Linked DNA regions of Homo sapiens: region 2 is linked to region 1. Evidence: fine-mapped expression QTL. A gene starts in region 1. The other region holds a variant in brackets. All regions are shown on one strand. Distances are between the middles of the regions.

Evidence for each region. PIP is the estimated chance that this variant, and not a neighbour inherited with it, causes the effect.
Region 2: its variant is fine-mapped to the expression of ZFYVE26 in whole blood (TOPMed, PIP above 0.99).

The regions. Positions count from the first base shown.
Region 1 is chr14:67,812,793-67,828,330 of GRCh38, forward strand. ZFYVE26 (zinc finger FYVE-type containing 26) reads right to left here and starts at 3,798. Exons shown (of 42, transcript NM_015346.4): 1 at 3,742-3,798; 2 at 2,978-3,254; 3 at 1,194-1,272. The coding sequence starts at 3,171. It overlaps RAD51B (RAD51 paralog B), which reads left to right and starts at 6,987. Exons shown (of 11, transcript NM_133510.4): 1 at 6,987-7,061; 2 at 10,750-10,835; 3 at 12,672-12,785. The coding sequence starts at 10,752. RefSeq lists enhancers at 4,010-4,179, 4,230-4,329, 6,820-7,114, 7,374-8,135.
Region 2 is chr14:68,000,603-68,016,896 of GRCh38, forward strand. All of the region lies in intron 7 of RAD51B (RAD51 paralog B), which reads left to right. Among named protein-coding and RNA genes, the nearest start is that of RAD51B, 190 kb to the left of the region's middle. The variant G/A (reference allele first, on the strand shown) is at 7,029.

The sequences.
Region 1 (15,538 bases):
TACTAGAGAGATCCCTTAATCAGTAACAATAGTTCTTTTTCTCTTTGAAGATACTATAGTAACTATAGGTTACTATTTTAGTTCAAGTTTTCTCTTTTAAATCTGAAACCATAGCCAACTCTTAATGATGCTGGGTTTCATTATGTTTCAATCTTGTTTTTCTTTCTTCTCGCTCCTACTAGTCTTTCTGTCATTTTTCTTTCCTAAACAACTGGCTAAATCCTGGATAAGAGATACATTCAGATTAGCAATTTCTGTTACTTTTTGACAGCTCTGTGAGGAACGATAAATATCATGCAAAAGTGGAACCAAAGACAAAATTAATTCTGGTGACCGAGAGGAGCAAAAATTTAAAAAACTGGCGAAATTACAGACATTTTAAAAGTAGAATTTGTGGTTTCTTAAAGTCCATCTGGGCTAAAAAAGTAGTGTTAAGGTGGAAAAAGCAGAGGATTGAGGTCAGAAGATCTTGGTTTCAGCACCAGCTCTGTCAAATAACTTTACGGTGTGTCCTTGGGCCAGTCATTTCTAAGTTAGAGGTTCTTCACTTAAATCTCAAAGTCTGAAGTTCAATATGAAAATGTCTCAGAGTAATTCTTTTATAAGATATAAATTTCTGATAATTAACATACTTCTAAAAGGACTTTTAATGGAAGTTTATCTTTAAAAAAGGTAATTCCTTACCAGGTTTTTTTTTTCAATATTAATTTGCTTACTTGTTTTTATATCTGGTAATTTTCTGTTCAATTCATGTGAATTATTAAACTATGAATTAATGGAATTTGAATCTATGAGATGTCATGGAATTAGGCTAGTTAAAATATGATTTTTGGAAGAAAAACCAAGTTTCAGCTCAGCCCATTCTCTATTACTTAAATGTTGAATAGATCCAAATGTTACAGATTCATATTTTATTTGCTATTTTGTTACCTTCACTGAGTTTCCAAAAGTTCTCTTTAGGCACAAGACTCATGGTGGTATTTAACAAACAGTAATATATGCCAATGTATATTAGTGCATTAATGAATGAATTTAGGTAAGGAGACAGCAATAAAAATTTAAGCCATTCTTTGAGAATGAGTATGATGAATTTAATGATAAAGGAAGTAACAGACAGAAGGGAAATCCCACAACTACTTTCAAGTTCTTCTCAGTCCTGGCCTCGGAGGAAAATTTAATATAAACCTACTTACCTTTTCCCGGGCCAACCATTTCTCCAGTACAAGAAGCCAGACCCAGGCTACTCTTTGAGGGTTGATGTCCTGCCCACATCTGAAAAAGGTAAAAAGAAAGACTTGTAAAAAAGAGTTTCTACTGATCTTTCATCTTTTGTCATCCAAGACAGATTTCATTGCTTATTCTGTTTTAAACCTGAACAGGCAAGACACTGCCCTAATGAGATATTTTTAAATGTATATGACAGTTCAGTAAAACATTGGAACCAGGCCAGGCAAGGTGGCTCACACCGGTAATCTCAGCACTTTGGGAGGCTGAGGTGGGTGGATCACCTGTGGTCACGAGTTCGAGACCAACCTGGCCAACATAATGAAACCCCATCTCTACTAAAAATACAAAAATTAGCCAAGTGCGGTGGCAGGCGCCTGTAGTCCCAGCTACTCGGGAGGCTGAGGCAGGAGAATCGCTTGAACCTGGGAGGCGGAGGTTGCAGTGAGCCTAGATCATGCCACTGCACTCCAGCCTGGGTGACAGAGCAAGACTCTGTCTCCAAAACAAACAAACAAACAAACAAACAAACAAACAAATCAGAACCAGAACAGAGCTAGCAGCTTTCATAAAAAGCCTTAATCTCACCTCCACCTCCTTATCTTAGTTTAAAATAAAATAATATTCGAGAAAACCATAATAGCTAATACTATCTGAAGCATATTTTTAATACAGAAAGTGAATCAGACAGTCTTAAAAAAGGAACTTCATACAAATTTATTTTTAACTATATGCTAAAAACAGGACTTTAGGAATTCATAAGCCTTTCTTTGAAGTTAGGAATTTAGACGGTAACTGGCTAGATCTCAAATTAAAGGAGAAAAAGAAAAGGAAGGGATCACTTAAGTTTCTCCATCGTATATGTGCTAATACAATATGTAAACAGTATAGCATAACAGTCAAAGGAAGGAAAACCCAAGGAAAGACTTAAAACGGTACATTTGACTCCTACATCACCAGTGGTTACTAGCATCACCAGGAGGAACTTCATTGAAAATCAAGGATGGAGAACTGTGGTTGCCAGGGAACAAGGAGGGGTTGTTGTATAAATACAAAGAGGTAGCACCAAGGAGTGAGGGAATTCTTTTGTGGTAATGGAACAGTTCTGATCCTTATTACAGTGGGATTACATGAATCTATATATGGATAAAACTGCATAAAACTACAAATGAAAAAATGAAGGCAGATTAAGAAAATGCTGAAAACCAAATAAACTCTGTAGTGTCATTTAAAGTAATGTGCCAATGTCAATTTCATGGTTTTGATATTGTACTACAGCTGTATGAGACGTCGCAATTGGGGCAGACTGGGAAAAGGATACGCTGGACTCCATTATTTTTGCAGCTTCTTGTGAGACTGCAATTATTTCGAAATAAAAAGTTTTAAGTAAAGCGACAACAATATTTTCAATCTCATAAGCAAGAAGAGAGCAGGGTTTGCTTTTTTGGAGGCAAAGAAAATAGTTTTCAATGCAGTTCCACCATCTATATTAACGAGGATAAACAAGAAATGGCAGTTTCAGGCACACTTTGGCAGCCAGGCTTACATTCAGTTGCAGATGATAATCAAAAGCCAATATTGACTAAGTAATGGATGTATACTATAGAGGTAAAATTTCAGAGCACGTGAAATACACTGTGCCTCTGCTTATTCTTCAGAGGGTAGTTGAGTGGGGGCACATTGACCAATGCCCAAATATTGAACCACATGTCTCTCACCCTGGGACCGTCTGGTAGGAAAAGAGATCCCTTACCTCAGCAGATTTGGACACACCACCAATGCCTGAAGTATGTCTTCTACCCTCTTTGGGATATCCCCTTGTCCCTCCTGTAGCTGAGGTACACATGCCTGTGCCAGCTCCCATTCTCCCCTCCGCAGGCATTCGCAGAAAAATCCAAAAAGCTGCTTCTGCGAAGCAGCTTCCTCTTTTCCAAATGGATGATTCATTTTCCCAGCACAGAGTGCAGGGAGATACAAAGAAATGAGTTATGCCGAACACATTCTCAATGTTCTCATTCGCGGAGTACCTCCTAGAAACAACACAACGCCAGTGAGAAGAAACAGAAGGCACTGTATTAAGACAAAGCAGCAACTACTGGTCCGCCTGGGAAAGGCGGGACTTGCTTGCCTAAGTATCGTTTTCAGTTTAATTTCCCACGTTACTTTTTGAAAACACTTTCTTCAAGGGGTGGATCCCATCTCTTCACGCGGATTCCTATATTTAATAATATTAATAGTCATATTTGCTCCGGGCGCAGACCCATAACTCTACGTCCGTATTCCCTACTGAACGTTATGCCCAGTCTTGACTCCAAATCCCCAGGTGGTCGCCTCCTCAAGAATGAGAAATTCAGCAGGAACCTCCCTAGTTTGAGCCCTCTGTTAAGGCAGAGGATTGACGACCAGGAGACGAATCTGTGTCATAAGTGGAAAGCAGTGTGGGGGTGGGCCGCAGGGACGCTCTCTGCGGGGGTCGTGGAGAGGGGCCCCTCCCTCTCAGGGGTGTCTTACACTCACCTGCTCCCGGCGCCCAAAGCAATAGAGCTCTCAGCGCAGCCATGTTTGAGCCGAGTCAGGTGACAGAACCCACTCCGAACAGCGGTGGTGGGGGTGGTGACAAAGACTGAAAGCCCCACTCCTATTGGCTCAAGGCAGGGAAGATGAAAATTAAGTGCCATATTTGTTTGAGTCACGTGACGCCACCTCTCCGGGAGTAGGGAAAGCTAGAAAGCTCGGAAAGAGGAAATCAGCTACCTGGCTGCGGACCATCTCCCTCAATTGTGACAGCTCCGGCGCTCAATACTTTCAGTTCTGCATTCGGCCGAGCAGGTGGCAGGAAGAACTGTGACCCTGGATTTTTTTTTTTCTTCCACTCTCTTATCTCCTTAACATGTGAAGTCAACATTTATTGAACGCCAACCAGTGATGGTGTTTTGCCAGGCGCGGGGGATACCCGGAGCTAGGAGAACTGGGTTCTCCTCCATTATTATTCTATCTACTGGGCTCTTTTGTTCCGGAACTCTGCGGTCTGAATTTCCATATTCTTCTGCTTCACTCCATTCATTTATTTGCACATTTACCCTACAACTGTTAATTGAACGGTGTGCTAGGCTTTATTTTATTTTTTTAGAGACAGAGTCTCTCTGTCGCTGGAGTGCGGTGGTGTGATCTCGGCTCATGGCAGCCTCGAACTTCCTGGATCAAGTAATCCTTAAGCCTCAGCCTTCCTGTAGTAGCTGGGACTAGAGGCGCGCGCCACTACACCGGGCTTAGGCCCTATTCTCTAAGTTGAGTAAATGGAGGTCCTTCTTCTCAAGGGAGATGCAGGCCAAAAATTAGGAGACGGTGGGCTAAATTATAAGACAGAAGTATGCATAAGAGATCAGAGAGCAAAGAATGAGCAAAGGCTTTTTCGCAAACACAATAATCTGAAACCAAGTCTTTTGTTTTGAGACAGAGTCTCGCTCTGTCTCCCAGGCTGGAGTGCAATGGCGCGATCTCGGCTCGCTGCAACCTCCGTCTCCCGGGTTTAAGCGATTCTCCTGCCTCAGCCTCACTGTGTAGCTGGGATAAGCGATTCTTCTGCCTCAGCCTCACTGAGTAGCTGGGATTTACAGGCGCGCGCCACCACACCCGGCTAATTTTTGTATTTTTAATAGAGACAGGGGTTCACCATGTTGGCCAGGCTGGTCTCGAACTCCTGACCTCAGGCAATCCGCCCACCTCGGCCTCCCAAAGTTCTGGGATTACGGGCGTGAGCCACCGTTCCCAGCCTGAAACCAACTCTTGAAGTAACGGCTTACTAGGTTTGCTCACCACAGCTGCCTTACACCAAGCCTTTTGTTTGGTTTCCCTGGTGTGCTTTAATCACAGACTCTCAGCTTTCCTCACTATGTGTGTTTCAGGTTTAGTAATTTCATTCAGCATTTCCCAAACTATTTAATCACCAAAGGGTGGTGAAAAGAGCAAGTTAAAACAAACAAAACGTTTTCTTCCAAAAACTCTTCTGTGATTGGTGGATTGTCCTCGATTCCTGAGAAAAGTAACATGGCTTTCTGGCCCATTAAGGTTTTTTTTTTTTTTGAGGCAATGTCTGGCTCCTCTCACCTCAGCCTCCCAAGTAGCTGGGATCACAGGTGCCTGCCACCATGTCTGGCTAATTTTTGTATGTTTAGTAGAGGCGGGGTTTCGCCATGTTGGCCAGGCTGGTTTCGAAATCCTGAGCTCAAGTGATCTGCCTGCCTCAGCATTCCGAAGTGAAACCGCCTTTGCAAAATTATAACTGAGGAAATTATGACAGTGAAAGAAATCAGACCTAACCGACTCTATCTTGCTTCTAACCGTTAAGCTGTCCTTGTTCATTCCTGGGCGTAGGCTGAACTAACTTTGGGGAGGAATTCAGTTCATGGTTTGACTCTGAAACAAAATTGATAACAGCCCTTTCCGAAAAGACCCACTTCTTGCCTGGGGACCAGTCTGCCTTTGCAGGACTAACAAATTAGCTACAAGTTTAGAAATTACAGTTTAGAGGTCATGCAGCCTCTGGCTCCAAGAGTCTGAACCTCCCCAAATTGCTCCCGGGGGTGACATCACTATTGCAAGCCCTAAGATCAGTGCTTGAGATATTTTGTAGACCCTGCACTCCATGGATCAGCTGACACCACTCAGACCAGTAATTTGGCGCAACCAGTTTTGCCATCACACCCAGGAACAGAAGACATTAAGAAAACCTCACTTCGACCCCTTATGATTCCATCTCCAACCTGACCAATCAGCACTCCCCACTTCCTAAGCCCCTACCAGCCAAATTATTGGTAAAAACTCCGATCCGCAAATGCTCGGGACAACTGATTTAAGTAACAATAAAACTTCAGTCTTCCGCACAGCTGGCTCTGCGTGAATTACTCTTTCTGCATTGCAATTCCCCTGTCCTGATAAATCGGTTCTGTCTAGGCAGCTGGTAAGGTGAACCCATCGGGCAGTTTCAAAAGTGCTGGGATTACAGGCATGAGCCACCGCGCCCAGCCTATTTTTTGTATTTTTTTGTAGAGGCGGAGGGGTGGGGGAGGGTGTCTCACTATGTTGCCAAGGCTAGTCTCGAACTCCCAGGCTCAAGTGATCCTCCCGCCTCGGTCTCCCAAAGTGCTGAAATTACGGGCGTGAGCCACTGCGTCTGGCCCCTTTAAGCCATTGTGAAAAGTGATGATACACGAAAAAAAAGATTTCCAGGGCCGAGAGCGGTGGATCACGCCTGTAATCCCAGCGCTTTGGGAGGCCGAAGCGGGCGGATCACGAGGTCAGGAAATCGAGACCATCCTGGCTAACACGGTGAAACCCCGTCTCTACTAAAAATACAAAAAAATTAGCCGGGCGTGGTGGTGGGAGCCTGTAGTCCCAGCTACTAGGGAGGTTGAGGCAGGAGAATGGCGTGAACCCAGGAGGCGGAGCTTGCAGTGAGCCGAGATCGCGCCACTGCACTCCAGCCTGGGCGACAGAGCGAGACCCCGTCTCAAAAAAAAAAAAAAAGAAAGAAAAAAGAAAAATTTCCAAACAGGGTGTTCCCTTGTTTCACATTCTCTTTGGTGATGGTCCTGCAACAGATTTTGATAATCACTATATTGAGAAACTGCTTCAGATTCGATCTGTTAGGCTGATCATAGTATTAACTACAATTCCCAGCAAGCCGCGGAGCCAACCTGGGCCTCTGCCGGCCTCTGATTGGATACAGTAGCCAGAATGACGACTCAATCAGTGCTTCGGTTGTTGCTTTGCGGCGTTTTCCGCGGGGAAACTGTGTAAAGGGTGGGGAAACTTGAAAGTTGGATGCTGCAGACCCGGTACTGGAAAGTTTCATGTGGGGTGCCGTTGTGGGGAAGTGGGGTTCGCTCATTATTTCCTGCTCCTTCCCTAGGCTCGTGGGTTTCGATATTGGGGGAGCGGAGATTTTCTCTTGGGTGCTGGTCACGCCCCCTTAAGACTCGGGATCGTCACTAAGAACCCCGCTGTGAATTGGGGGAGCTTCGGGCCTTCTTTTGGTGGGGAATGCTTGGAAGCTGCTCATTGTTGGAAAAAGCTCTTTTTAGGGGATTCTGGGTGATGTTTCCGCCTGTTGCTGCCCATCTTCCTCCCCAGCCCCTTCCCGCTTCGGGCAGCCTGTCATTAGGGGAAGTTGAGGGACTCTCCCACTTCAGGTGGTGTTGGAGAGCGTGGAATCTGGAGTCCGGTCCCTGGATTCGAATGCGAGCTTCACACCAATTGTCAGCTGTTTAACTTTGCCCAAGTTTCTCAACTAGTTACCTCAGTATCCTTATCTGTAAAGTGAGGTAAAATATCCGAAGCCTTTGGAACAGTGTGGCACGTAATAAGGGCTCAATAAATATTAGCTAATATTGTTCCTAAACAGTTGTTGAACATCTAACATGAAGAATTTTCTTTTCTTGGTGGTAAGGAGGACAGGGTTCATTCTCCAGGGTTGACCGTCTCCCCTCATGTGCAATACACATACGTGCTTTCGCGCACACATACACCGCAGGAATTTACGTGCTCCGGTGGGGGCAAACAAACTTGCAAGCCATAATAGTATTTTGATAAGATTATCGAATAGATATGTGCGAAGTTGATGAGAACATTGGAGAGGAAAAGACTTGACTCTGGGGAAGGTTTTGTGGAGGGAAGTCAGGGAGACAGGATGCGTGACCTACCAATACACATACCATGTGGCTGGAGGGCAGATCATGTGAGAGTCATTAAATGATGATTGCTGACCTTAAGTACTATGTGCCACGCACTCCCCGAGTCCTTTAACCTCCACTACAGTCATATGAAGTAGTAAATTCATATGACTGTAAAACAAGGGTTTTAAGGAAATTAAGACACTGAGAGGTGAAGTAACTGCCAGGAAGGATAGGAACTGAACGTTGCAATGTGATGTATGAGTGAGAAGGAAGTGAGGGACCAATTTTTGATGTTTTTCTCTGCGACCCTAAGAAGTTTGGAATTTATCCTGTGGTCTACCAGTCCCATGGGAAGTGTTAAAGGATAATCGTGACTTTTTAGGAAGCTACTCAAGGCAGGATTGTGACACTGATCTGACTTTTGCAGGCGAATTTGGGGCTTCTTCCTGTCTGCTTCCATAGCACTTTTAAATAGCAATTGTAATGCTTACTGCATGGCTGTAGTTATTTGTGTGTACCTCTCTTTTCATCTCAACTATGAGTATTCAAAGGGGAGGGAATATGCTTAAATGATTCTTGTACCCCAGACCTCAGCAGGGTGTGTATTTAAATGCCTGTGGAAGGAGTAAATTAAGGAACAAATGAATGGAGTGGCCAGAAACAATATGCAATAGTCCAGGCAAGTGATGGGAGTGGCCCTATTAAGGCAGAAATGGCAGAATTGGTTGTTGTTAAAGTCCTTGTAGTTTAGAATTTATAGTTTTTTGTTTGTTTGTTTTTTGTTTTTGATAGGGTCTCAGTCTGTTCCCCAGGCTAGAGTGCAGTGGCATGACCACAGCTCACTGCAGGCTCGACCTCCTGGGCTCAGGTGATCCTCTCATCTCAGCCTCCTGGGTAGCTAGGACTACTACAGGTGTGCGGCACAATGCCCAGCTAATTTTTGTATTTTTTTGTGGAGACAGGTTCTCTCTATGTTGCCCAGGCTGGTCTCAAACTCCTGGGCTCAAGCAATTTGCCTGCCTTAGCCTCCCAAAGTGCTGGGATTGTAGGCGTGAGCTACCTTGTGTGGCCTATGGTTCTTTTCTTTCTCCTTCTTTTTTTTTTTAAATTGAATTTATCAGTCTAAATGGTGTCATTACTTGAAACTACCTGATCTGAAAAGACACTAGGCAATATTATAGCAGGTATCACTTGGTTTTCTACTGGGGGAAACAAGTCATTGCTAACAAATTCCCATGGAGAGAAATGAGGAGGATGTATTTTTGTTTGTGAGAGGTGTGTATGTATGTATATTGTGTGTGCGTGTGTGTGTGTGTGAGAGAGAGAGATTGATTCAGTCTGATTCAGAGAATTTAGGTGTTAAATAGAAATTTGGGCCATGGTATTGGAAATAAACAAATATATACATTCTCAGTATACATATATTTTCATTCCAAAATGTTACTTCTTTTCTGATAACTATATTGCTTTATTCCTTGGATCCATGAAGAGTTCCTGTTTCAGTTCGTTCCAGAGGATACTTCTTTACCATCTCAATGAGATATACAGCTTCTCCTTTGTATGCATTAAGAGACTCACAGTAATTCTTTTTTAGCTCTGTGAAGATAAATCTTTCATGAGCCTCATTTACCCCTAGCAAGGTACAATAGTGAAATTTAACTGCATGTGAGAATATAAGCAGCTAGTGTAATAAAGAACATTTTGGGCCAGGTCTGATCGCTCATGCCTGTAATCCCAGCACTTTAGGAGGTCAAGGCGAGAGGATCACTTGAGCCCAGGAGTTCGAGACCAGCTTGGGCAACATGGCAAAACCCTGTCTCTACAAAAAATACAAAAATTGGGCAGGCATGGTGTCGACCCTGTCTCTACAAAAAATACAAAAATTAGCCAGACATGGTGGTGCACGCTTGTGGTCCCAGCTACTTGGGAGGCTGAGGTAGGAGGATTGCTTGAGCCCAGGAGGGGGAGGTTGCAGTGAGCTGAGATCGAGCCACTGCACTCCAGCTGGGGTGACAGAGCCAGACCTGTCTCGCTCTCTCTCTCTCTCTCTATATATATATTTAAAAAGAACATTTTAATACTGCAGTGATAAAATCTCATTTGATTCAGAAGGTGTGCTCTGACTCCTAGAAAAAGGAAGAGTTAAATATGATTATGGACTTGCAGTAGAGTGTAATGGTTAAGAGGATAGGTTTCAGAATTAGACTGCCTGGATTCAAATTCTGGATCAGTTATTTATGTTTTCTGGTGACAATGGACTAGCTAACTTTTCCAGGCTTTAGTTTTCTCATATGTAAAAAAGGGGCCAATAATCTACTTTCCTTCTAGGGCTATTGAGAAGATTAAATGTGATAATTTAGATAAGTTTTGGAACAGTGCCTGGTATGTGGTAGGTGCTCCATAAATATACCTATTGCCGTTACAGTGCAATGTAAATTGTTACAGTGCAATAGACTTTCTAGTAGTTCTGTTTGGAAATATGCCTTGAAAGTTAATTACATTTCCAAATAAAATTTATACATGCATTGAACATTTTAAGATGCTCTACAAATGTGAAGTGGTACTATATTCATGTAGTAAATATCAATTAATTGTGTGAAATTATATTTGAGGTTGCCTTGTAGATTTTCTATGTGCCTGTTTGACGAACAATTGTCCCTCCTATTTAAAACATTTAAAAAGGTTCTATAGCATTCCTTTATCAGTAATATTTTTAACACAATATGTTTCATTTTGCATATGGAGAAACTTGAGGAATTTTTAATTTTGTTTTGGATAGCCTATTCACTATCACTTATGTTATATTCTGTTGTTTTTTTCATGGTTCTTCTTTTCTTTGCTGGATCTGGAGGCATGGGTAGCAAGAAACTAAAACGAGTGGGTTTATCACAAGAGCTGTGTGACCGTCTGAGTAGACATCAGATCCTTACCTGTCAGGTAAATTTTATTTAACATTTTTATTGATAAGTTTTATGCACAAGTTAACTTTATACCTTAATACCTCTTAAACTTGAAATATGAAAATGTAGGCTTACAAAAAAAAGATAAATGATGGTGCTTTTCCATAGGCTAATTGTAAATATCAAGCCTCCTTGGGTGCATTTCCAACTGCTATTTCATTTACCCAAATTTAGTATTTTTGCATTTTGAGGGGAAAGTGGTCACGGCATAAGGTGAAGTAACAGCTTTACTGTTTTATAGTTACATGAGAAATAGGACTCAAATGAGGAGATACTATTCAACATGTATCATTTCTCTTAAAAGCAAAAGAAATTAATAGACCATTTTCTTATTGATGGAGCATGAGAAATATATAGAGCGGATCTTGCATTTTTAAGCAAGGTGGTGAAGCAAATCCTCCTTAGCAGGGTAAATAAGATTTAAAGGTTTTGGTTGGTTGTTTTTGTTCTTTGTTGTTTTTGAGACTAGGTTCTCATGCTGCCCCAGCTGATCTTGAACTCCTGGCCTTAAGCAATCCTCCAGCCTCAACTCCCAGCTAGCTGGGATTACAGGCACACACCACTGTGCCTGGCTAGATTTAAGGTTTTATCTTAGGATTTTATCCTTTTTTTGTTTGTTTGTTTAGAGTCAGTGTCTCACTCTGTTGCCCAGGCTGGAGTACAGTGGTGCCATATCGGCTCACTGCAATCTCCTCCTCCCCGGTTCAAGTGATTCTCCTGCTTCCATCTCCTGAGTAGCTGGGATTACAGGCACATGCCACCACACCCAGCTAATTTTTGGATTTTTAGTAGAAACGGGGTTTCACCATGTTGGCCAGGCTAGTCTCAAATTCCTGATCTCAAGTGATCCGCCTCCCTCAGCCTCCCAAAGTGCTAGCATTACAGACATGAGCCACCGTGCCTGGCCTGATTTTATCTTTAATAAGACATTTTCACAGAGCATTCTGCAATTTTTTTTTTGAATTGCTTTCTGTGTTAAAGATAACATCGGTTCCTTTGTTATACATTTAATTATTTGCATATTTATACTCGGAAACATTCTTAAAAGTATGAAATTTGTTATTTCATCCTATAGTCAGTTTCATTCTTTTTCAACTACGAAATATTATCTCTGAGTGAACTTCTAGCTTAGAAAGAAACTCTTTCGGCCGGGCACGGTGGCTCACACCTGTAATCCCAGCACTTTGGGAGGCCGAGGTGGGCAGATCATGAGGTCAGGAGTTCGAGACTAGCCTGGCCAATATGGTGAACTCTTGTCTCTACTAAAAATAAAAAAAATTAGCCAGGCATGGTAGTGAGTGCCTGTAGTCCCAGCTACTCAGGAGTCTCAGGCAGAAGAATCGCTTGAACCCAGGAGGTGGAGGTTGCAGTGAGCCGAGATCGTGCCACTGCACTCCAGCCTGGGCGACAGAGCAAAACTCTTGTCTCAAAAAAAAAAAAAAAAAAAAAAAAAAAAAGGAAAGAAACTCTTTCAACCTGACACTTTCTGGGCATATATTTATACCCAAATTCTTTTTGGCACAAGTGTAGCGCTCATACGCACCTGGATTGGATGCTGGTGCTATGTGATATTATTTGGTGTATCCTCTGGTATATGCCAACTAAACAGGATAATTAGAAGATAAGTTTGTGTCATTACAACTTTTAGTTAAGGCATATTTATGGGGAAAATACTACAATGAATGTATAAATCTTTGATCTGCGATAAATTATACTTTTGTCTACATAAGCAGTATCAATTGAAGGTTTCCTTTTAACTCTAGTATCTTTGTTACACATATATGTTTAAAATACTCTCTTTATGTTTCTTTAGGACTTTTTATGTCTTTCCCCACTGGAGCTTATGAAGGTGACTGGTCTGAGTTATCGAGGTGTCCATGAACTTCTATGTATGGTCAGCAGGGCCTGTGCCCCAAAGATGCAAACGGTATATTTATATTTTATTATGATTTGATTATGAATGATTCCTCATCTCATTAAACATGTTTTTTTAGGGATGAGGCACATGCAGAAATAGAGATGAGTACCTCAAAAATACTGAGTTTTCTACTATAGAAGTTAGTTCTCTAAGGAAAATACATGTGAAAATTTTTTTTTTCTTTTTTGAGACGCTCTGTTGCCCAGGCTGGAGGGCAGTTGCACGATCTCGGCTCACTGTAGCCTCTGCCTCCTGGGTTCAAGCGATTCTCCTGCCTCAGCCTCCTGAGTAGCTGGGATTACAGGCACGGTGCTACCAAGCCAACTTATTTTTATATTATTAGTAGAGATGGGATTTCACCTTATTGGCCAGGCTGGTCTCAAACTTCTGACCTCAAGTGATCTGCTTGCGTCGACCTCCCAAAGTCCTGGGATTACAGGCGTGAGCCACCGTGCCTAGCCTATGTGTGAAAAATTTATGTAGTTTATAAACTCATGGGAGACAATTTCTAAATATGGGAATTAGGGAGCAACAGAAAGTTTTTATTTTTTTTTCTATAGCCAATAGCAGTAGTTCAAAAGGTCATCTTTCTCTGATTGATTAGGTAGTATTTGATGGCCTCATAGTTAAATTATAATCTTAATTTTAGAATGCCCCTTTCTTTGATATACTGACCTTTACCATCATCACTTGCTCTAGATCATAAAGTACACATAATTGTACTTGTAGTTGCTTATTGATTGAATAAAAGGTAATTAAAAATTTATCCTTTACTCTTAAGAAAATTTGAAGTCTTTTACAAAAGCCCTCATCAAATTGTACATTTTTTCAGACTTTTTGTGTCATGACTGTAGCTTTTCAAAATGTAGATTTGGAGCATGATAGAAATATCTTGTTTTCTCACAGTAAGAGTTTCCTAAAATTCTGTTCGGTGCTTTGCAAATGTATTTATTTATGTGGACTGTAAGTTTCTTACCTTACTGCCTTATATTGAAATTTACTGAACACTGAACAATGAAGTACAATTCTCTGAAGAAGGGGAGAAGGAAGGAATGTTAGTGTCACTGGAAACTTCTAAAAACAATGAACAGATATTTGAACAACAGATATTTTCTTTCTTTTTTTTTTTTTTGAGATGAGGTCTGTCTCTATTTCTCTGGCTGGAGTACGGTGGTGTGATCTCGGCTCAGTGCAGCCTCCGCCTCCTGGGCTCAAGCCATCCTCCCACCGCAGCCTCCCGAGTGGCTGGGACTACAGGTGCACACCACCATGCCCAACTACGTTTTGTGTTTTTTGTAGAGATGGGGTTTTGCCACATAGCCTAGACTGTTCTTGAACTTATGAGCTCAAGTGATCCTCCCGCCTCGGCCTCCCCAAGTGCTGGGATTACATCAGCCACTGTGCCTGGCCAAACAACAGATATTTTCTTTTGTTCAGATTTAGCTTGTGATCTGAGGAAAATATTTTAAAGACAGGATAGTCAGAAGGAGAATCAGAACTGGAGTTAGAAACTGGCATTAGTCTTAGCTTTATCATTGATTTCATTGCTTGAACAGCTTTCTTTTATGGGAGAAAACAGAAGTTAAAATACTATGCAATGATTCTGTGACTAGATTCAAATTAACTTGTTATTATTTTGAAGGTTGTAAAGCACCAGAAAAACCTTTAATTTGTCATCTGTCATTCTAATTAGTCAATATCCATGGCATATTTCCCGTTAATAAATAGAGAGCATGGTCCCGAAATTCAACTTTAATTTCTACTTCCATCACTACCTTCAGCTGCCATCTTAATACAATTCCAAATACAGTTCAAGAAACCATCTTTCTCCTATGGTTTACATTCATTCTTGTAGCATTCCTTATATTTCAGCACTGCCCTAAACACTGGCTTAGTTTTTTTTTTTTCCAACTTTTATTGTAAGTTCCGGGGTACATGTGCAGGATGTGCAGGTTTGTTACATAGGTAAATGTGTGCCATGGTGGTTTGCTGTATGGATCATCCTATCACCTAGGTATTAAGCTCAGCGTCCATTAGCTATTCTTCCTGAAGCTCTCCCTCTCCCCCACAACCTCGCAACAGGCCCCAATGTGTGTTGTTCCCTTCCGTGTGTCCATGTGTCCATGTGTTCTCATCGTTCAGCTCCCACTTATAAGTGAGAACACACAGTTTTTGGTTTTCTGTTCTTGCATTAGTTTGCTGAGGATGATGGCTTCCAACTCCATCCATGCCCCTGCAAAGGACATAATCTCATTCCTTTTTATGGCTGCACAGTATTCCATTGTGTATACGTACCACATTTTCTTTATTCAGTCTATCATTGATGGGCATTTGGGTTGATTTCATGTCTTTGCTATTGTGAATAGTGCTGCAATGAACATATGTGTGCATGTATATTTATAATAGAATGATTTGTATTCCTTTGGGTATATACCTGGTAACGGCATTGCTGGTTCAAATGGTATTTCTGCCTCTAGGTCTTTGAGGAATTGCCACACTGTCTTCCACGATGGTTGAATTAATTTACACTCCCACCAACAGTGTAAAAGCATTCCTATTAGTCTGCAACCTCACCAGCATCTGTTGTTTCTTGACTTTTTAGTAATTGCCATTCTGATTGGTGTGAGATGGTATCTCATTGTGATTTTGATGTGCATTTCTCTAATGATCAGTGATGTTGAGCTTTTTTTTTCTATGTTTGTTGGCTGCATGAATGTCTTCTTTTGAAAAGTATCTGTTCATGTTCTTAGCCCACTTTTTAA
Region 2 (16,294 bases), 190 kb after region 1:
TGGCTTCTTGGATTGAGTTTACTTCACTTTTCCAGTGGGTAACTTTTATCTGACCTTTAGGTCTGTAATTGTTTGGTTTGTTTTCTGAAGCTATGGAATGTTTTGGAAAAAATAAGCCTCATGGAGAAGGGCTATTATCCCTGAAAATGATGAGACCGGAAATGAGAAAAGCAAAAATCAGATATCACCCTTGACCATGTGGATTTCAGTTTTTAAAAAGTCTTTATCCTCTGTCTCTGAGAACCATTATTTGGAAGTCTGTTTCTCTGCCTCTCTGTGATAAGTTCTCACCAAAGATCCTCTTGTGTTTTTATTAGAATTACATCGAATTCATAAATTGGGGAGAATTTATGTATTTATAATATTGAATCTTTTCATTTATGAAAATGGTTTATTTCTCTATTTAGGTATTCTATAATATTATAGACTTTTGTCCTCAAAGATCTTACAAATCATAATTTGGTTAGATTTATTCATGGGTTTTTAATAGTTTTTAAAAAATGGGATCTGTTTTTATTATGTAATCCAATCAGTTCTTGGATCAGAAAATTGATTTTTATATTTAAAGTCCAGCAAAACTGCTTTGCATGCTTATTAAAATGGCTTGCAAACTATCGTATATTTTCTATGGAATCATATATGCAGTAGCAGTTTTTCTTCTATTCCAAACCTCATACTTCTTTATTCTTGAATAGAAGTGTCATAGTGGGATTTTTTCTTATTCCTGATTTCCGGAGACTCCAATATATCATTTTTCATTTTAGAAAGTTTATTTTTCTTGCTATATTGGTGGAAGCTTTTTTCTTAAGTGATGAATCAATGTAAAATTTTATACTTTTTTATTTTGGAAATTTCTAGTTTATTAGGGTCCTCTTTTAATGGACAAGGCAGTAGAGACTCAAAAAGGTAATGGAGTTTATTTATTTATTTATTTATTTGATTTTCAACTTTTAAGCTCAGGGGTGCATGTGCAGGATGTGCAGGTTTGTTGCATAGGCAAATGTATGCCATGGTGGTTTGCTGCATAGATCATCTCATTACCTAGGTATTAAGCCCAGCATCTGTTAGCTATTCTTCCTGATGCTCTCCCTCTTCCCATCCCCCACCATCCAAGGCCCCACTATGTATTGTTCCCCTCCATGTGTCCCTGTGTTCTCATCATCCAGCTCCTACTTACAAGCGAGAACATGTGGCGTTTGGTTTTCTGTTCCTACATTAGTTTGCCGAGGATAATGGCCTCCAGTTCCATCCGTGTCCCTGCAAAGGACATGGTCTCAATTTTTTTATGGCTGCATAGTATTCCATGGTGTATACGTACCACATTTTCTTAATCCAGTCTATCACTGATGGACATTTAGGTTGATTCCATGTCTTTGCTATTGTGTATAGTGGTGCAGTGATCATATGTATGTATGTATCTTTATAACAGAATGATTTATATTCCTTTGGGTATATAAGCAGTAATGGGATTGCTGGGTCAAATGGTATTTCTGCCTCTAGGTCTTTGAGGAATCGCCATACTGTGTTCTACAATGGCTGAACTAATTTACACTCCCACCAACAGTGTAAAAGTGTTCCTTTTTCTCTGCAACCTTGCCAGCATCTGTTGTTTTTTGACTTTTTAATAATAGTCATTCTGACTGATGTGAGCCATTGTGGTTTTGATTTGCATTTCTCCAATGATCAATGATGTGGAGCTTTTTGTTATATATTTGTTAGCTGCATGTATATCTTCTTTTGAGAAGTGTCTGTTCATGTCCTTTGCCTACTTTTTAATGTTTTTTTTTCCTTGTAAATTTGTTTAAGTTCCTTGTAGATGCTGGATGTTAGACCTTTGTCAGACAGATATATTGCAAAAATTTTCTGCCATTCTGTTAGAAACTATAATCAGCTTGATGATAGTTTCTTTTGCTGTGCAGAAGCTCTTCAATTAGATCTCATTTGTCAAGTTTTGCTTTTGTTGCAATTGCTTTTGGCATCTTCATCATGAAATCTTTGCCTGTGCCTATCTGCTGAATGGTATTGCCAAGATTTTCTTCTTGGGTTTTTATAGTCAGGGTTTTACATTTAAGTCTTTAATTAATCTCGAGTTGATTTTTGTATATGGTGTAAGGAAGGAGTCCAGTTTCAATTTTCTGCATGTGGCTAGCCAGTTCTCCCAGCACCACCTATTAAATAGGGACTCCTTTTCCCATTGCTTGTTTTTGTCAGATTTCTTGAAGATCAGATGGTTATAGGTGTGTGGTCTTATTCCTGGGTTCTCTATTCTGTTCCATTGGTCTATATGTCTGTTCTTGTACCAGTACCATGCTGTTTTAGTTACTGTTGCCTTATAATATAGTTTGAAGTCAGGTAGTGTGATGTCTCTAGCTTTGTTCTTTTTGCTTAGGATTGTCTTGGGTATTCAGGCTCTTTTTTGGTTCCATATGAATTTTTAAATAGTGTTTTCTAATTCTGTGAAGGATGTCAATGGTAGTTTAACGGGAACAGCATTGAATCTGTAAATTGCTTTGGACAGTATGGTCATTTACATGATATTGATTCTTCCTATCCATGAGCATGGGATATGTTTCCATTTGTTTGTGTCATCTGTGATTTCTTTGAGCAGTGCTTTATAGTTCTCCTTGAAGAGGTCCTTCACTTCCCTTGTTAGCCTGGGTATTTTATTTTCTTTGTAGCAATTGTGAATGGGAGTTCATTCATGATTTGGCTCTTGGATTGCCTGTTTGTGTATAGGAATACTAGCAATTTTTGCACATTGATTTTTATATCCTGAGACTTTGCTGAAGTTGCTTATCAGCGTAAGAAGCTTTTGGGTTGAGAGGATGGTGTTTTCTAGGTATAGGATCATGCCATTTGCAAACAAAGATAGTTTGACTTCCTCTCTTCCTATTCGAATATCCTTTATTTCTTTCTCTTGCCTGTTTCCCTGGCCAGAACTTCCAGTACTACATTGAATAGGAAAGGTGAGAGAGGGCATCCTTGTCTTGTGGCAGTTTTCAAGGGGAATGCTTCCAGCTTTTGCCCATTCAGTATGATATTGGCTGTGGGTTTGTCATACATGGCTTTTATTATTTTGAGGTATGTTTCTTCAATACCTAGTTTATTGAGAGTTTAAACATGAAAGGATGTTGAATTTTATTGAAGGCCTTTTCTGCATCTGTTGAGATAATCGTGGTTTTTTTCTAGTTCTATTTATGTGATGAATTACATTTATTGATTTGCATATGTTGAACCAACTTTGCATCCCACGGATGAAGCCTACTTGATTGTGGTGGATAAACTTTTTGATGTGCTGCTGGATTGAGTTTGCCAGTAAAATTTTGTAATTTTTAATATCTACTAAGATAAATCATATGGCTTTTTTATCCCATTAATGTGGTAGATTATGTTAATGGCTTTTGTAGTGTTAAATCATCCTTGCATTGCCAAATAAACTATACTTAGTTATTTAAAAAGAATATATTGCTGTAATCCCAGCACTTTGGGAGGCCGAGGTGGGCGGATCACAAGGTCTGGAGATCAAGACCATCCTGGCTGACACGGTGAAACCCTGTCTCTACTAAAAATACAAAAAGAAATTAGCCAGGTGTGGTGGCGGGTGCCTGTAGTCCCAGCTACTCGGGACGCTGAGGCAGGAGAACGGCGTGAACCCGGGAGGTGGAGGTTGCAGTGAGCTGAGATCGCGCCACTGCACTCCAGCCTGGGCAACACAGCAAGACTCCGTCTCAAAAAAAAAAAAAAAAAAAAAAAGAATATATTGGTGGATTTTTTTGTTACTATTTTGTTTAAGAATTCCTTGTAGTTTTTGTTTGTAGTACCGATTTTTCTTTCTAGATTATAGAAGAAGCTCAGCAGCTTTCTTCATTTTCTATTCTCTGGAAAAATTTTTATAACATAGGATTTTCTCATCATGAAGATATGGTAAAACTTATTTCCACATCCTCCATACTTGATGGAGTTTCTAAGTAGGAGGGCTTTTAAAAATAATTTATAAATTGAAATATAATGTATTTATGGGAAAATTGCACAAATGATAAATGTAGCTGTAGCTCAATGAATTTTCACAAACTGAACAATCTCATGTAACCAGAATCCAGATGAAGAAACAAAAAATTACCAATGTCCCAGAAGCCCCCACTGTGTGCCCTTTCAGCCACTGCCTTTTCTGAGGGTGACCACCTACTCCAGTTTCTAAACTGTGTATTTTAGGGGGGTTTGGTTCGTTTTTGAACTGTATACAGATGAAATTATACAGAATGCTTTTTTTTTGGTATATGGCCTTTTTCACTCTGTAGTGTATTTGTGAGATTCATCATGTTGTATTGTGTAGTTGTGGTTCATTCTGTTTGCTGTGCAGTATACTATTTTGTGATTATTCATACAATAGAACATATTACATATTTATGTATCCATTCTACCATTCTACTGTGTGTGTGTGTGTTTTTTTTTTTTTTTTTTTTTTTTTTTGAGACAGTGTCTCTCTCTGTTGCCCAGGCTGGAGTGCAATGGCAGATCTCAGCTCACTGCAACCTCCGCATCCCACGTTCAAACAATTCTCCTGCCTCAGGCTCCTGGGCAGCTGGGATTACAGGTGCATGCCACCACGCCCAGCTAATTTTTGTATTTTTAATTGAGGTGGGGTTTCACCATGTTAGTCAGGCTGATCTCGAACTCCTGACTTCATGATCTGCCTGCCTCGACCTCCCAAAGTGCTGGGATTACAGGCGTGAGCCACCATGCCTGGCCCATTCTACTGATAATGGAGTTTTGCATGCCTTCTAGTTTTAGCCTAGTGTAAATAGGGCTGCTATGGACATTTTGGTGGACTTATTTGCACATTTCTTTCAACCTAGGAGTTGAATTATTGGGTCATCAGTTATGCATGTATTTAGCTTAGTGATGTTGCCAAACAGTTAAGTTGTTGAACTAATTTATATTCTTACCAGCAGTGTTGGAGTACTGGTTGCTGCACATTCTTGTTGGGCTTCGTATTTAACTACTATATTTTAGCTACTCTAGTGGGTATATTGAATAACATGTAGTATGCTGTTAACTTGCCTTTCTTTGATGATTAAGCACATTAAACACTTTTTTCATATACTTATTGGTTATTTGTATAATTTTGGTGAAGTGATGTATTGCTTCTCGACATGCTATAAAGAAATACCTAATACTGGGTAATTTATAAAGAAAAGAAGTTTAACTGGCTTATGGTTCCATAGGCTGTACAGGAAGCATAACGGCTTCTGGGGAGGCCTCAAGAAACTTTGAATCATGGCAAAAGACAAAGGGGAAGCAGGTGCATCTTACATGGCAGGTGGAAGAGAGAGAGGAGGGATGTGCTCTACACTTTTAGCAGGAGGAAGAGAGAGAGGAAGGAGGTGATAACACTTTTAAACAACCAGGTGTCGTGAGAACTCTATGAGGAGAACAGCACCAAAGTGATGGTGCTAAACCATTTATGAAGGATCCACCTCCATGATTCAAACACCTTCCACCAGGCCCCACCTCCAACATTGGGGATTATACTTGAACGTAAGATTTGGGTGGGACACAGATCCAAACCATACCAAGTGCCTACTCAAGTTTTTGTCCATTTGAGTTGTCTGCCTTTTTCTTAATGACATGCAGAAGTTCTTTATATATTATAAATACCAATTCTTTGTTGATTTTATGTACTACAACTAGCTTCTCTATGGGTATATTTTTATTAGTTACTCAGTTTTTAAATAGTTATCCAAACTTTCTATTTCCTTTTGAGATCTTTTTAATAACATTTTTCCAGAAAGTTGTTGATTTATCTTAATTTTTAAACCTACTGATAAAAAGTTGTTTAATCTATTTTTGGTATCCTTTCAATTATTCTAGAAAATTATTAGTTGCTATCGCTTTAAATATTGCATATACAAGTATATATGAGGATGTGTGTGTATTTTTAATATAACTGGTAGCATACTTTACATACTGTTTTGTACCTTATTTTCTTCACTTAATATTTCTTGGAAATCCTTGCATTTCATTATATAAGGAGTGCATCATTTAAAAAATACTTTCATAGTATTTAATAATATTATGTGATAATATATTTACCCAATTTTTTATTGATAGGAATTTGAATTACTGCTAGTCTTTTGCTGTACCAAGCAAAGCTGAAATTAGGATAAATACATAAAGTGGAATTTCTGGTCTTATAAACTCCTGGGCTGATGATAGAGTATTAACTTTTATGTTTATGTTCCATTTTTAATGTTTTAAGTCTTTTAGAAATTGAGATATAAATGACATGCAATAAAATTCACCATTTTAAAGTGTACAGTTCAGTGGTTTTTACTTTATTCATGGAGTTGTGCGATCACTACCAGTATATAACTCCAGAACATTTTCATCATCCCAGAAAAAACCCTTAGTAGTCACTCCAGATTCCTGCTTTCCCCCAGCTCCTGGCACCCTCTAATCTATTAGTTTTCTGTCACTGTGTATTCGTCTATTCTGGACCTTTCATATAAATATAGCTATACAAATGTGATCTTTTGTGCTTGGTTTCTTTTACTTAGTATAATGTTTTCAAGGCTCATCTATATTACAACATGTATTTATGCTTATTTTCTTTTATGTATGGTCAAATAATATTTCAGTGTATGGATATACCACATTTTATTTGATGGTTATTTGACTCAGTTTTACTTTTTGTCTATTATCAATAGTGCTGCTATGAATACTTGTATCTACGTTTTGTTTGGACATGTGCTTTTAATTCTCTTGACTCTATATCTGGGAGTAGAATTGCTGGGTTCTATAGTAATCCTATGTTTAACTATTTGAGGAACTGCCGAACTGTTTTTCTCAGTAGCTGCACCATTAGCACTGTGTGAGGTTCCAATTTCTTCACACTTTTATCAACGCTTTTTATTTTCCTTACAAATTAAAAAAAAAATTATACCTGCTATTCTAACGAGTATGAAGTGGTATATCATGGTTTTGATTTTCATTTTCCTAATGTCTAATGATGTTGAGCAGATTTTCAT[G/A]TGCTGATTGGATATTTACATCTCTTCTTTGGCAAACTGTCTTTTCAGAGCCTTTGCCTCTTGTTTAATTGGGTAATTTGTCTTTTTATTGTTGAGTTGTAAGAGTTCTTTATAGAGATACTTATATTATGTGTGTTGATAAAGGGCAAATATCTCCATATGAAGTGTTCCTTTATGTTAATGAGAGTAAAAATGCTAACTTCCAAATAGAAAAATGGCCAAATAATACAAAAAGGAATTCACAGGGAAGAAAAACAAGTAGCTAATAGTAAAAAAATAAAGAAAAAGCAAATTACATTACTGAAATAAATGCAAATTGGAATGATGACTTTTTTGCGTATTATATTTTTAAAAATATGATTTTTTTTGTGGGTGAGTATGGGGTGAAACTCTCAGGTAACATAGGAAATGTAAATTGATTACCTTTGTAGAGGATATTTGGCAACATTATAAAATTATATAGAATATGTCTATATAATTTGAATCAGTAGTTTTACTTCTTGGAATTTTTTCTGAGAAAATAATCATTATTTTGCATATAGATTACATACAGTGATACTCATGCCAGTATCATCTTTAATGGCATAAATTTATAATCAGCAAGAGGATGGTTAATTACATATAGTACAATATTTTACCATTGTTAAAATTTATATTTTAAAATATAGACAAATTGATCTTCATATAATGTTAATGTTAAGTGAAAAGTAGTAAGATACAAAGCTGTGTAAAATGTATGATAACAATTCATAAAAAGCAACATTCACCCACACAAAAACCTCCACCACCACACACACACAGAAATAAGAGTGAAAATAAACATTCCATCATATTGACAGTGATTACCTTCGGGCGGTGTAATTAAGGTTGATATTTATTTTCTCCTTTATGTAGTTCTGAATTTCCCAGATTTTTAAGATTAAATATGTATTGCTCTCTAACTAGGGAAAGAAGTAAAATAATTATAAATAAGATAGATTAAATGGATTATTATGGTGCAGTGAGACCTTTTCCCATTGGCCCTGGGATTTTCTTCCTTTGGTTTATGAGTTTAAAGTGTTGACAGTTGTGAACTAGTTTGCTAAGTGATAGGAAGCAGTGTTGAAATGAAATACTTTAAATCCTGAAGATTTATGAGGAAGAAAATACTTGGGCAAATAGTGTCAATGAGTCCTGATACGTATTGCTAACTTGTCACTAGTTCACTTTACATCTGTGTAGTGATAACTTTGTTTTTTCCTCCCTCATTGATTATAGTCTCTCATCCCACCATTTGCCAAGGCCGTGTAAATAGTTTGCTGTCGTAGAGATACGCAGCAGGCCCATTTGAGTAGTTCTCTTTCACTCTGATCTCCTTAGAAACCTATCACTTTTACCTTTAAATGATACATTTTTAAAAAACTATTGTTGTTGTTGAATGGGATTTCCCTAAATAAGAAGAGCCATCTCCCTAGTTTCAGGATTGTGGCTTCTTTAATTGTAATGGAGTTTTAATATTATATCTACGGTGGAAATCAGAGTCAATTCAATCTTATTTTGCATCCCCTGTATGCTATCATACTGATTAGGGGTGTAACAAAGAATGGACTGTGATTTTTGCCATTTTGTGGTTTTCACTGGAGATTTTATAGTACAGAGGGAGAGAATGGCATAGTAAATAAAAGAATGAGCTTAGAAGTGAGACTTTGTGGGTTTAAATACCTGCTCTCTAATTTATCAGTTTGTATTTAACTTCTCAATATCCTTATCTGTAAAGTAGAAATAACAGCACTATCATTCATCACTTTCTATTTCCTTATCTTTTTGCCTTTTCTTCATGGAAGTTTTCACTTCCAAGACATTATGTTTTTCTTCATTTATTTACAGTAATGTAAAATCCTGGAATACATGTACCTTTTTGGTTCACTCATGTATTTTTAGTGTCTAGTGTAGGGTTTGCTACATAATAGCTCCTAATATTCGTTCCTTCTACTGGGAACTTCTTCCAACATGAATATCCATATAGCTTATCCCCATGCTTTATTTAGTTCCCTGCTCAAGCATCACCTCACTAGAGAGAACTTGCTAGACGACCTCTTCTATAAAATAGCACCCTTTAGTTTTCTCTATTTTTTCCTGCTTTATTTTTCTTCATAATACTTTACTGACTGCTAAGTAGTAACATCAATTTATTTTTATATTTTCGAGTGCCTTGCAAAAATTAGGGTCTTCATAAATGTTTGTTTAACTGAAATTAATTATCTTAGACTATTCTATCTTATTCTCATATGTAATAAATTACCAGCTTGTGACTGTTTATTTCTAGGCTCCTTCAACCTATTCATTTGTTTCTATGCTTATTTCCACTTCTTTTTTCACTACACTAATTCAGTTAACTGCCACCTGTTTTGTGAACAATTGAGTAGTTTCTCAATTTTGTTTTGTTTTCCTCCAGTTCCTCAACCTGCACAAAACATCTAGCTTACTGCTCTTCAAATATGCTATTATCATTTCATTCTTTTTCAATGGCTTCCCATAATCCATTGAATTAAATGATATTCAAATCTCTTTATATCTAATTGGAACCTACCTTTCCATAGCACTAAGGAGAGTTGTAAGGAGGTGAGTACTTGGTGTAAAAATTGCTTATAGATGTAGTTAGCTTGCTATGAGATTAAAATGATTTTTAAAGTACAGAGAAAAATAAGAAATAACTTTAATGCAAGTCAATATATAATCAACTGATTATACGTGATTTAGTCCACAGATTTATAGAAATTCAGATAAAAAGATCATTGAAACCTTGGCTCATCAGAGAGAGCTTCATTAGAAAAACTGATAGTTGTTTGGGGTCCTGTATCATTTATTCATTTTATTTATTCAGACCCAATTTCTCCCTGTTTTTCTAATACAAATATATAAGATTTTAGAGTAATGGATTCTGTTTTGTTAATATAAAAATATTTCTTGTGTCAGAAGAATTCAGATGCTTATAGATATTCTTGTAAAATGTTATTATTTTTAATGAGATTGGGTCTTATTCCATTACTTTGAAAATGTATACAACTGAGCTGTTTCTTCTGATCAGCTTATACTATGGACACTTAGTTTGAAGTCATATTGGAATAATTTGGAGAAAGGTAGAATTTAGTAGATATTACAGAATTTAGGTATCTATTGTAAAATTTAGGTTTTATATAGGGCATGACATTTTTTAAGCGAATTTATAATAAATAGGGCTTTTTCAATTATACAGTAATGTAGGTTCCAAAGTGCTATTTTGTGGGTTTTCTGTGTGTTTAGCTGTTTTGTCTGTACTTATATTTGTATTTGTATTGTACAAAGGATATAAGTTTCTTTGTAGTTTGGATAATCTTTTGGATGAAAGAAAGGTAGTGAGTCATACAAAATAGTGAAAAAAATCAGATATTTTGAAATAATACTTCTAATTTTCCAAGGATTTACCAAAATAGAGGATGTTAATTTTTAGTATGAATTTTTAATGATTGGATTGGTTTTCTGATGACTGTTTTAATTAGTTCTGCAGGGCATCCCATTTCTATCAACATAGTGTGTGCAACACCTTATTTACCAGTAATCAACTCATATCTACTCTCAGTCTGTAAAGAGGGGTGTATATGAACCTTTACTTGTTATTTTTTACTTACGTAAATTTATTTACTTTTACATTCCTGGTCAAAGTGAATAAACATTTTTTATACAGATGAGTTCATTTCCTCACTCCCATATCCATTCCAGTTTCTAAGAGCCTTCTGATTAACAGGCTCCCCAAAATTTTTCCCTTCCAATTTAAATTTAAGTAATTAGCTTTTTCCTAATTTGGAACCTTGGTTAGAAAACACATTTGTTTGATTTGTCATTAGTTTGGGCATCTTACTTCAAATGAGGTCATGTAGCTTTGAGTTTAGATGATCACAGAAGTGTTCACTGAGCAGCATCTTCGTAGCTTTGAGGAAACAGAAAAACAACTTTTTTCTACTTTGATTATGATTCTTTTTGACAGTTGCTTTAACTACAGTTAGGTACTGGCTGTACCAGTTCCAGTTTAAACAACTGGACTCTGAACCTGTTTTTGTTCTGATTAAGAAGTTTATTTATATGTTCAGGAATACAGCGGCACAACCTGTTAACAGCTGTAAATTTGCTTGATTAAGCTGTGTGTAGACAAATTTACTAGAGGGAACTGTTCCCTAAAAATTCCAGTTCACTTACATATGAAGTTAGTCTGGCTGTTTCTCACCAGTTTCCATCATTTCCTGCCAAGAATAATAAACATTTTCTTGCAAAGCATCGACACTAAAGGTTAGAAGTGTTCAGTGTTTTATCAATCACACTGGGCTGTCATGAATCTCAATAAACAAACACAGAGATATCTATGTGGATGCCTGGAGAAGCCGTTAGACCCTAGAAAAATAATTTCTTTCAGACAGTATCCTAGACCTTTTCAAAGTAGATAAATGTCAATTATGAAGAGACATTTATTGTAATGGAAATAATGGATTCTTCGGTCTAGATTTTCATTTACTGACCTAGTTCAGGGAAGCTTGTACTTTTAGTGGATAATAATAAGCTAGAGCAAGAAAGTGTGTTTTCTTAATTTCATATAACTGTAGATGCTATTATGAGTATTATAATAAAGATGGGTTTATTAATTTAAACTTATAGTATTAACATTTCTCTACCATGGTCTGTCAGGCAAACTGTGGCTCACGACTGGTGCACAGCGTGTTATTGTAGCACTCACAAGTTAAGAATGGGTTTATAGTTTTAAGTGATTGTAACAAACATAAAACAAAGAATTTTATATATATATATCTAGAGAGAGCGAGAGAGGAGAGAGAGCCCTCAAAGTCTAAAATATTTATTATCTGGCCCTTTAAGATAAAGTTTGCCAAACCCTGGTCTATATTAGTAGTAATAGTTTACTACCAGCATTCAAAACGTGCCAGCAACAAAGCAGGATGAAATTATAGTCTTAGTGTTAGGGTATTTTATTTCTTATTTAGTGTTAGGATATTTTATTTCTTATTTGCATGTGGTATATAAAATAAAAATATAACAGTATCCTTATAGGGTTATTGGGAGCATTAAATCATAACTTTTTGTGGTGCTTCTTACACATGGAGGACAATAACTGTTTTGTTAGCTGTTGCTGTTGTTATATGTCAGATGCCTGACAGTTGTTTCAACTTTGTTTTATGTGTGTATCTTCTGTTTATTCTCTGCTCTATTTGCATTATGTTTAATTTTGTAAGTCTTTTAAAAATCTTTTTGATTTTAGTTGCAATGCAAATTTTAAAAGTATAGCAGTTTTATTGTTCCCATTCCTGTGGCTGTGTAACAGATTACCCCACAACTTAGTGGCACAAAGCAATCAGTTATTATGCTCACAGATTCTGTGGGTCAGGAATTCGGACAGGGCACAGCAGGAATGGCTTCTCTTAGTTCCACAGTGTTTGAGGCTGGAACCTCAAAGGCTAGGCACTATAATCATTCATTCATTTATATGTCTGGCAGATGTCACTGGCTGTTGGCCCCAGTTCCTCTCCACATGGGTCTTTCCATGTGATGTCTCCAAATGAACTAGTTTGGGCTTCCTTAAGTAGAGTGTCTGGGTTCCTCAGAGCAAACATTTCAAAAAGAGAAAGATAGGCAGAAGCTATATCCTTCTTATGACAGAGCCTTGGAAGTCACAGAACATTATTTCTATTTTGCTCTGTTGGCCAGAATAATTAGAAATCCCCCTAGGTTCAAGAGGAGAGAAATAGACTCTACCATGTGATGGGTGGGGTTGGCAAGATTCTGGAAGAGCATGCTGGACCAGAAATACGGCTGAAGCCATTTTTGGAAATATGATCTGCCACAATGATATTACTTTATTTAATAATTGCTTATGTAGCATTTAATCTATATGCTAGGGACTACTGTAAATACTAAACAAATATTAATTCATTTAATCCATAACAGTCTTATTTTACAGATGAGGAAACTAAATCAGAATATTGTATTACGTAGAATATAACTTTCTCTGCTCTTGATGGACAACAAATAATTTACTATGATTTTAAAAACTTGTCTAGTATTATTTAAACATTAAATATTTTGGATGCAAATTTGCATTTCCTGCATGCATCATATTAGAATAGACTTGAGAGGTGCAGTTTCTATTAAGTAATGTCTTAAATAAGTACAAAGGTCAGGCATCCAGGAGCTCATCCTTCCATATTCTTAGAATTGGGATGTGATAAATAAGTCAGAATTTTTTCATGAAGCAGTGCCCAGATGAGTACATGTTATCAAATATTTTATTTGATAATAATGCAGGACTGACTGACCAAACTTGATTTATAAATTAGTTCCATGTCCTTTTATGAGAATAAATACAATATCTTGGTCTTGTTGTGATAATATTACCTAATGGCTATGTTTTCCTTCATTGGCATTGAAATCAGAACTGATTTTTGGTAAGGTTAGTAATTTGCGTTATTTTTAAATCTCCATTATTATGAAGATATTTTATCAGGGACAAAGATTGCCTTTTCTCTCTCCCTCTCCTTTTCTTTTCTTTCTTTTTTTTTTTTTTTCCCATTAACAGTTGATGGAGGAAGGTAACTTTGTATGAGTTATTGTTGGACATGCAAGCCCTGTTTTTTTACATTTGTTGATTCTGCTTTGGAGATTTATCAGTCTCTGAGCAAGTTGCTTTGAAGCATTTCAGTCTTCTTTGTCTCTCAGAACCCATTAGTGCTATCTTCAGGATGTGCCAGAGTGACTTTTACCCTGGTACATTTGTGACACAGTTACACCATATCTCCTACTCTCTACTCATCACTGTATAGCAAGTACAAGTTACCAGATAGAAGCATATTCTTGTTGGATTATCAAAACTCAGGTGGAGTGTTTAACATCTTTTTTGAATATTTAAATAGTGTTTTTCTTTCTAATTGGCAAATTTTGGGTATTCTTTAAAAACAATATTTGATTAGGAGATCATGGAGAAATTTGTATGGTCAAAACTTGCCAAATTTGAGACTCACTTATTTGTTTAAATTTAAGGATCAGTAAAAATAAATAAATAAATAAATAAATAAATGTAGGAATCTAAGATAGAGACCTGTACTATTCTGAATGTGAATGAACTGATTACATTGATTGGAATACGTAATTTAGGAGCATTCATTATTACTTTTTGACTTGGAAACAATATAAGAATGAATGCAAAAAAAAAAAAAAAAGGAGCATGTGGATTCATTGCTATCTTGTTTACTGCTCAGTCACTTATTTGAGAGTGCCAAACCCTACCCACTAGGGCCACCCGGGATGCTTTGTTTATTTGAGAGGGGGTGTGGAGGCATGGTGAAGGGCAGGAGCTCCAGAGTTAGGCTGACTGGGTTTTAAACCCAGCCCTCCTGCCATCTGTGCAATCTTGGTCCAGTTACTTAAAACACTCTGTGATTCAGTCTGCTTTTCTGTAAAATGGCTGAGTTTTCTCATTGGTAGAAATGGCATCTACTTCATGGTGTTGTAAACATTAAATGATTAAATATATGTAAAGTGCTTAGGATAGTGCTTAGCACATTATAAGCTCATAAATGTGCGCTCCTATTCATTAAATCATTCTTTCATTCACTTATTAAAAGCATGACATTTATTTAACACCTACTATGATGGGGATACAAAGGTGACTACTCAGGAGATATGAATATTATAATAGGGGGAGGCAGAGGTATATTATAGTCATTACAACATACGATGGTGTATTAGTCTGTTCTCATGTTGCTAATAAAGACATACCTAAGACTGGGTAATTTATAAAGGAAAGAGGTTTAATGGATTCACAGTTCCACATGGCTGGGAGGCTTCATAATCATGGTGGAAGGCGAAGGAGGAGCAAAGTCATGTCTTACATGGCCGCAGAGAAGAGGGCGCGTACAGAAGAACTGCCCTTTATAAAACCATCAGATTTCGGGAGACTTATTCACTATCATGAGAACAGCATGGGAAAAAACCTGTCCCCGTGATTCAATTACCTCCCACTGGGTCCCTCCCATGACACGTGGGGATTATGGGAGCTGCAATTCAAGATGAGATTTGGGTGGGGACACAGCCAAACCATATCAGGTGGAGAGTGATATAGGTTATAAAACAAATATGTCAAAGTGCCATGAAAAGAAGAGGACAAAATTTTTGATAGCCTTAAACAATCGTTTCACTTTTCTCTGACACCATTTATTCATTTATAAATGCCTTACCTTTTATGGAACTTTTACAGTTCTTCAGCAGGAAATAATCTCTCCTTTATTGGCATCCCTATATCATTTTGCCTTATGGCAATTATTATTTTCTATCTTTCTTTTGGCAGCTGTTGATAGTAATCATTTTGTATCTTGTTAAATCATTATTTGTTCCTATCTTGTCCATTTTACTTGAAGACAGTTCACAGTCACTCAACACAGTACTTATCAAAAATGCTTCAAAAATATTTACTGAGTGAGTCAGGTAACAAAACGATTAAAATGCTTAGCCATCAGCGTATGCCTCTATTTTTTAAGGGCTTTTTATAAGCAAATACGGGTAGAAAAACATTGGCAGTTTGAGAGTAAAATAAACATATATAACTCACCAACTGACTGATCAGGATAATTATCTGGGAGTCTCTGGGGGTAAAAAGCCCCCAGTTTGTTCCATTTTACAACTCCCACCATGGCCTCAGTCAGGCCACCAACATGATACAACTAGATGTGGAGTTTGGAAGGGTGTGCACTGGAACACCATCATATAGTAATCCTGCCAACTGGATACAATAGTGTAAGCAACCCCAAGAGCACAGATAATAGTAAAATGTCCAACATATTTAACAAATGAGGTGTTTTGAGTATTTATTATCTTTGTTTTAATATAATTTTTATTTATTGGTACATTTATAACATTTAGCTTTAAATGATGGCTGTGTTTAACAACTGGCTTAGAAAATTCCTGAAAATTTAGTAGTCAGCTCTTGTGAAAGAGTACAAGCCAACTCACATACACTTTTACCCAGGCTCTGCTGACTGTGTAACTTTTGCTAGTAATTTCACTCCTAGAATCTGTGCTAAGGAAATTATCTGTGAATTGGAAAAAGCACAAAGATGTTTATCATAGCATTAGTAGTAACAGCAAAAAGTTGGAAGCAACCTAATTGTTTAAAGTGAGCTGTGGTTAAGTAAATTCACTGGAATGTTTTCTGGAATTAAGTGACTTCTTTGAAGACTTTATAACAACAAGGG